Homo sapiens: one gene and its partner. The protein of the gene in region 2 interacts with the protein of the main gene of each other region in a biochemical or structural test. Each region holds a gene or a part of one and is shown on either strand. Other genes may lie near its edges.

Evidence for each region.
Region 1: the proteins of RAB7B (region 2) and RNF115 form a complex in vitro, tested with the Homo sapiens proteins (one study listed by BioGRID).

Annotation. Positions count from the first base shown.
Region 1 is NC_000001.11:145,814,086-145,817,906, forward strand, and holds part of RNF115 (E3 ubiquitin-protein ligase RNF115), read right to left. Parts: intron 1-3,821. UniProt on the Homo sapiens protein: E3 ubiquitin-protein ligase that catalyzes the 'Lys-48'- and/or 'Lys-63'-linked polyubiquitination of various substrates and thereby plays a role in a number of signaling pathways including autophagy, innate immunity, cell proliferation and cell death.
Region 2 is NC_000001.11:205,996,880-206,000,700, forward strand, and holds part of RAB7B (ras-related protein Rab-7b), read right to left. Parts: intron 1-3,821. UniProt on the Homo sapiens protein: Controls vesicular trafficking from endosomes to the trans-Golgi network (TGN). Acts as a negative regulator of TLR9 signaling and can suppress TLR9-triggered TNFA, IL6, and IFNB production in macrophages by promoting TLR9 lysosomal degradation.

The DNA of each region.
Region 1 (3,821 bases), about 60 Mb from region 2:
CAACACAGTGAGACTCTGTCTCTACAAAAAATTAAAAAATTAGCCGGGTGTGGTGGTACAGCTAGTTGGGAGGCTGAGGTGGGAGGATTGCTTGAGCCCAGGAGGTGGAAGCCGCAGTGAGCCGTGATCATGCCACTGCACTCCAACCTGGGCAACAAAGTCAGACTCTGTCTCCAAAAAAAAGATAAAAAATTGTCTACAGACTTTGCCAAATGTTCCCTGGGAAACAAAACTACCTGAAATTGAAAACCACTGCTCTAGGCTATCTCATTTATTGCTCAGTAGGATGTGAAGAGATCCAACCTGGCCAACATGGTGAAACCCTCGTCTCTACTAAAAATACAAAAATTAGCCAGGCGTGGTGGCAGGCACCTGTAATCCCAGCTACTTGGGAGGCTGAGGCAGGAGAATCACTTGAAACTGTAAGGCAGAGGATGCAGTGAGCCGAGATCGTGCCACTGCACTCCAGCCTGGGTGAAAGAGGGAAACTCCGTTTAAAAAAAAAAAAAAGAGGCAACTAAACATAAAGAAATACAAAGTGTTAGCACATCTAGTTGGTACTTCCCCCGAAAATACAAAAAATTTCTTCTGCAGTGAGTTCAATTTTCAGATTTTTTTCTTCCTTATACTGAAAAAGTCCCACAAATTTCCCCAATATATACATTTATATTTATCAGTAGAATTACAAGGATAAACTAGCCTCTACCTATAAGAATACATATTTATTTCTAGATATTGCAGTGAATATATGTACTTCACTGTACATTCAAATTTCACATGGTAGCACCTACATTTTGTACCACTGTAGCCTTTTAAAGGCGTCAAAACACTGAAGTCATCACTTTTTAAATATAATTACTGGGTGTTCAACTCATATCAATCATTCAATTAAAAAATATTTAATTAGCAACTGCTATATAGCACCAGATAGACATCTCTCTGGGACCTTTCTAAGAATCATGCAACTTAGAAAGGTCAGCTGAGCTTAAACGGTCACAAAGTCTTTAAGAAATCTGCTTTTTAGCTACTTTTATTATGGGTGGTTTGAACATTTTCCTGTATTAGAGTTATTGCAAGTACAATACAATGATGAATGCCTTCTCTAGCACCTGGTAGAGCCAAACTAGATAACATTACTTATTGATAAGGAAAACATTTTATTAGATCAAAGAAGATGATAAAATAAGTAGAGGGAGAGAAGCCTACTACATAGTTTCTTCAGGTGGAGCCTGAAAGCGAGCAGTTCTTAACCTGATCTCTTCATCTGGATTTAGGAAGATACCCTGATCTCCATAAAATACTTAAGAACCACCCTAGTCTCATCAATACCAAAAGTAGGTTACTCTGCATATGATTTATCTCACCTGTTTAATGATGACTCTACCAGATTTAATCACATAAGGTAACATTCCCTGACCTTGATTTAATGGGGAAAGACGGATGGTAGGGTGTAGGAATGGAATAACACCTTTACACTCCATGACACAGCCCTCTGTGGTGTACTACCCAGTCATTCATCATCAATGTAGCACACTAACTCCATTAGTCTTGGCTTCACATTGTCTCTCAATAAGATAGGTAAGGTAAGAGTTTCTGCTATGGTTTTGAAAATAATAATCTGAAGTTACTTTAAGTATTTATTCTATAATCTGATGACCAAAAAATCTACAATGGCATTTTACCCAATCCTACAGAAACTTAAAATCCTGAGGCTCCAGACTATATAATCGAAATCTCTGATTTTAAAATCCAAGTTTAGTACTCACAAAATTTTACTAAAGTTATTTTCACTGTAAATAGGAAAACACTTTTAATAAGGAGAAAGAAATTCCTAAACCAATACTCACTTGGAATGGAGACTTTTTTGAAACCTAACAGAAAACAATGCCACTAAATATGTTTTCATTTTAAAATTCCCTTCATGATTTCTCCTTATTTCTTAATATCCTCTTTCCAAATGAACCTTTTGTCCTCTTTTTGAATGGTTTTTTTTTTTTTTGAGATGGAGTCTCGCTCTTTTTGCGAGTGCAATGGCACGATCTCAGCTCACTGCAAGCTCCGCCTCCTGGGTTTTCAAGCGATTCTCCTGCCTCAGCCTCCCGAGCCCAGCTCAAATCACTAAATTGCTTAGATTAGAGGCGCCCACCACCACGCCAGGCTAATTTTTGTATTTTTAGTAGAGACAGGGGTTTCACCATGTTGGCCAGGCTGGTTTTGAAGTCCTGACCTCAGGTGATCCGCCCACCTTGGCCTCCCAAAGTGCTAGGATTACAGGCACTAGTCACCATGCCCGGCCCTCTTTTGTCCTCTTATCTGAGTGGATCCAACCCAAAGACACACAAAGCTAAAATTGATCAGGATTAGCAGTAAGGAGTGTTATTCTGTCAAATTAAATGAATTCAGCCTACATGTGGCTTTAAAAAAAAAGGTGAAATAATAAAGTAATTAAATTTTAAAAAGAAGAGAAGAGTTATTAAACCTTGCAACCTAGTCCCGTTGAACACAATTATGGCTCTGAAGCAGACCTTCCCATTGAATGGGTGAAGAAACCTAGTGAGAGCTCATTAAAAGCTGATGTAAACTCAATACCCAGCCTCTGGTGTTCAGTGAGGACAGCACTCATAGATGATGGGTTCTTTCTTTCTTTTTCTTTTTCTTTTCTTTTCTTTTTTCTCTCCTCTCTCCCCTCTCTCTTCTCTCTCATCCAGACTGGGTCTCTGTTGCCCAGGCTGGAGTACAGTGGCACAACCATAGCTCACTGTAACCTCAAATATCCTGGGCTCAAGTAATTCTTCCACCTCAGCCTCCCAAGTAGCTAGGACTACAAGCACATGCCACCATACCCAGCTAATTTTTATTTTTTTTGTTGAGACAGGGTCTTGCTATGTTATCCAGGCTGGGAGAACATTTTAAACAAAGGGAGACAGAGGTCTAAAAATAGATAATGCATAGGAGAATGGTGAGGTAAATGCTATGGCCAAGGCACAGGGCGTGTGGAGGAATGAGTTGGGTTTTTGAAGTTGATTAGATTAAATCATGGAGTCTTTTTCTTTTTTGAGATAAGCTCTTGCTCTGTCACCCAGACTGGAGTGTAATGGCACAATCACAGCTCACTGCAGCCTCGACCTCCCGGGCTTGAGCAATCTTCCCCGACTCAGCCTCCTGAGTAGCTAGGACCACAGACACACACCACCACCCCTGGCTAATTTTTTTAATTTTTGTAGAGATAGGGTCTCACTTTGTTGCCCAGGCTAGTGCCAAACTCCTGGGCTCAAGCAATCCTCTCCTGCCTTGGGTTCCCAAAGTGTTGGTATAACAGGTGTGAGCCACAGCATGCCCCAGTGAGGGATGGTTCTTGGTATCCAACTATCACAAGAGTCAGTACCCTCTTTGTTTACTTTGTTTTTATAAAATTTATCCATATCTGATTTTAACTGGGGTATTAAGCCTTTTTATATATTGACTATAAATGGTTTTTAGGTTTTAGGTCCTTCATTTTGCTCTTTGTTTTCTACACATATTTTTTTTGATTTTAGGTTTGGGGGCACATATGTACATTTGTTACACGGACAAACTGTGTCACTGGAATTTGGTGTACTGATTATTTCGTCACCCAGCAACTGACCATAGTACAAGATAGGCAGTTTTTTGACCCTCATCCTCCTCTTACCCTCACCACCTCAAGTAAGCCCTCGTGTCCATGTTTATGCCCATGTGTACTCAATGTTTAGCTCCCACTTTTAAGTGAGAACACGTGGTACTTGGCTTTCTGTTCCTGCTTTAATTCACTTAGGATAATGACCTCCAGCTGCATCCATGTT
Region 2 (3,821 bases):
TGAGAACTCACTCACTATTATAAGAACAGCATGGGGAAACCACTCCCATGATCTAATCACCTCCCACAAGGTCTCTTCCCCAACACATGGGAATTACAATTCAGATTACAATTCAAGATGAGATTTTGGGTGGGGACACAGCCAAACCATATCATAGACCAAAGGCGATTTGAAGCTCTACTCAGAGCTGTTTGTCCTAGGACCTGGAGTTGGTGGCACTGGAACTTCTGCTCTAACCCAGGAATGCTGGGTTGGCATGGTGAGAAATGGGTCTTCTTGATGGTTCACACGTTCATGCAGCAAATGCCTACATGCCTACCACATGCAAAGCCTTGCACTAGACACTGGGAACAGCACAGAGATGGAGCAAATAGGAACCCACCACACGGAGTCACCAAGGAAGAAAGGACAGTGGCTGAGTGATGACACCAGAGAGAAAGTACACAGCACCGCAGGAGAGGCACAGGGAAAGTGCTTGAGAATTCAGCAGAACTAGGTCCTGAAGAAATGAAGCATGTGGTTGGGGAGGGAATGAAATAACCAAAGCCTTGGGAAGAGATGAATGGGGAAAGTGGGCGATTTGCTTCAGGGAAGGGTGAGGTGAAAGGTGTAAAGGGAGGAAAGGCTGGAAAGGAAGCAAGATTAAGACGGGCTGTAAATATCTGACCAAAGATCCTGGCACTGACTCATTCATTCATTCATTCATTCACTCAGCAAACATTTCCTATATTCCAACAAAGAAGGCAATTCAAGGCTTGAACCTGGGCTGGCATTTTGTAATGGATGCTGCTGTCCACGAGGGAAATCAGCCAAGAGAGAAATGGTTCAGAAACCCCTGAAAAAGCATGGCTCTCGAAGTATTTGTTATCACTTTGGAAGGGTCCTAGGAGCAAAGGGAAGCTGTTTCCTAAAGGCATTGATACAACGTGCTAACTTAGCTTTAAAAAGCAACACAATGCCTTAGAAAGAGAGTCAGAACCAAAGGCAGGCAGGAAGAAGCGGGAGAAGAGGCAGCACTGGCTGAGCCCCTGCAGTGGGCTGTGCTAAGTATTCTACCGAGGGCAGGCCATCTTCACTATTACCCTCTGAGACAAGTACAACCAAGCTCCAAGAAGCTGAGTAATCACAACTCACCCAAGCCTGCACAGGGAGTAAATGGAAGAGCTAGTGTTTGAATCAAAGGCTGAGAAGGCAGGCTGGGTGCCGTGTCTCAAGCCTGTAATCCCAGCACTTTGGGAGGCCAAGGTGGGCGGATCATGAGGTCAGGAGTTCGAGACCAGCCTGGTCAACATGGTGAAACCCCATCTCTATTAAAAATACAAAAAAATGAGCCAGGCTTGTTGGCTCACACCTGTAATCCCAGCTACTTAGGAGGCTGAGGCAGGAGAATCACTTGAACCCGGGAGGCAGAGGTTGCAGTGAGCCGAGATCATGCCACTGCCCTCCAGCTTGGGTGACAGAGCAAGACTCGGTCTCAAACAAACAAATAAACAAACAAAAAATGCTGAGAAGGCTTTCCTGTGTCATGCCTCCTAATCACCAGAGTTTGAACCCATGGAATCTGTGTGCACAGGAATCTAGGGCACTGGGCTCAGATTTGGTGAATTTCAACAAAACCCTAGGAGAGTTGGAGGAGGCAGAGAAAGGCTGCCAAAGTGGCAGAGAGATACAGTGGGGGTGGAGAGAACTGGAGCTGCCCAACAGGAGCTATGTGTGAGGACTGGCCACAGGGTCAGAGACGCGGCATGCTAGGCAGAGGGCAATGCTTTCACACGCTGTCACACGACCATGCAGCAGGGCTGGAGTACGTCTCACGTTACAAGCTAACATTTGTTTGGTGGGCACTGTGCTGAGGGCTTTGTGAATACACAAATACACAATAGCATTGTCAGGGGTAAACAATACGTTATTATAATACATTGAACACATAGAATACAATATTCATAGCATATTGTGATACATTTACTGGCACAAATTAAGGACTCAAGAAATGCTAGCTATTTTATTGCACACAAAGATAGCCTGTGAGATTGATACTATTATTATCTGTTTTACCATTGAAGAAACAGATGTTTAGAGCAGTTAAGCAGTTCAGCCTTAAAGACAGAAAGCCCGCACGTGTTAGAGCAGGGTTTGAAGCTGGGATTGGAGTCCAGGCCTAACCCCAGAGCCAGCTCTCTTAACTACTGGGTTCTACTGTCTGTAAAACTAGAATGAGACTCACACGCCTTGCTCCATAGTGCCCCTGTTAGAGAGCTCAGGGGCTGGATGGGTGAGGGTTTGATGCAGGGAGGCCAGCGGCGTGCTTAGGAAGGGAAAGCTGGGGCAGGACGAGGAAGGTAGAAGGTGTGTGTGAGACATATAACAGGTCGCTATGCACAATGTGTAAGGCACTCATACAGATAATAAAAGGCAACACACCTATCAAAAATGGGCAAAGAACGTGAACAAGTTACCAATTGAAATCTTATAAAGAATTAGTAAGCTTTGAAAAGATACTCAACCTTACTAACTATCAAGGAAATTAACATTTCAAAATACCATTTATTTTCACCCAGTAGAGTGGCAAAATTTTAAAAAGATTGACAACAATATTTAGGGTTGGCAAGTGTGTTAGGGAAACACTCTTATATATTGTTGATAGAGTATGAATTAGCACAGTCTTTTTGGAAGGTAATTGGACAATATCAAAACGTAATATGCACACAGCCTAGGTTCTCATTCTAGGAATCTGTCCTACAGAAATACTCATGCATATGCTCAAACACATATTTGTACAGATGATTACTAAAGCATTGGGGTAATCTAACTGTCCATCAATATGACACTCTCTACATCAATTCTGATCCATTAATACTCTGGAACAATTAGCTGTTTTATTATTTATTTATTTATCTGTCTATTTAGAGACAGGGCCTCATTCTTTTGCCCAGGCTGGAGTGCAGTGGCATGATCATAGCTCCCTGCCACCTCAAATTCCTGGGCTGAAGTGATCCTCCCCCCTCAACCTCCCAGGTAGCTGGGACTACAGGTGTATGCCACCATGCCAGGCAGATTTTTTATTTTTCATTTTTTGTAGAGACAGGATCATGCTTTGTAGCCCCAGTTGGTATCAAACTCCTGGCTTCAAGTGATCCTCCCACCTAGGCCTCTCAAAATGTTGGCATTACAGGTGTGAGCCACCACGCCTGGCCAAGGGCAGTTTTAAAAAGATGAAATAATGAAGTGGGAAGCTACACGTGATGGCTTTAAGTAAGAAAAAAGAAAATCACTGAACGTTTTATATAGTGTGATAAGAAAGCTAAGGGGAGATATACACTAAATGATTCATAAGAGGGATGGGAAAGGTAGATTAGAGGCTAAGAGCTATCATTTTATGTTATATATGTTTTGTTTTAAAATTTGTTACACAAGCCTAAGTTGTTTTGTAATTTAAGAATATCAAATAATCACTTAACATTTCTTTAAAAAGATGTGTGGATGGCAGCCCAAAGCAATTTGAGCGTGATTTTCAGATAGGACAAATTACTTCTGTGAGCAAGAGAGTGAGGATGTCTGGTGCCATGGAGTGATCATGAGTTTGGGACTCAGAATTCTCATCCTGGCTCCACACATTTGTGGCCTTGGATGGGTTACTGAACCTTGGGGCGTCTGTTCCCTCATGGGTAAAATGGACATCACTCGTGGCTGTGGCTTCCTCTGCAGGTGACATGTGTCATGATCTTATAACACAGCACTGGTCCCCAAGTTGGGAAGGATCCAGATAATTGTTTACCAGCTGGGAGAGGGGGTGAGTCTAGAGGCCAGGGCCCTGGTTGGTC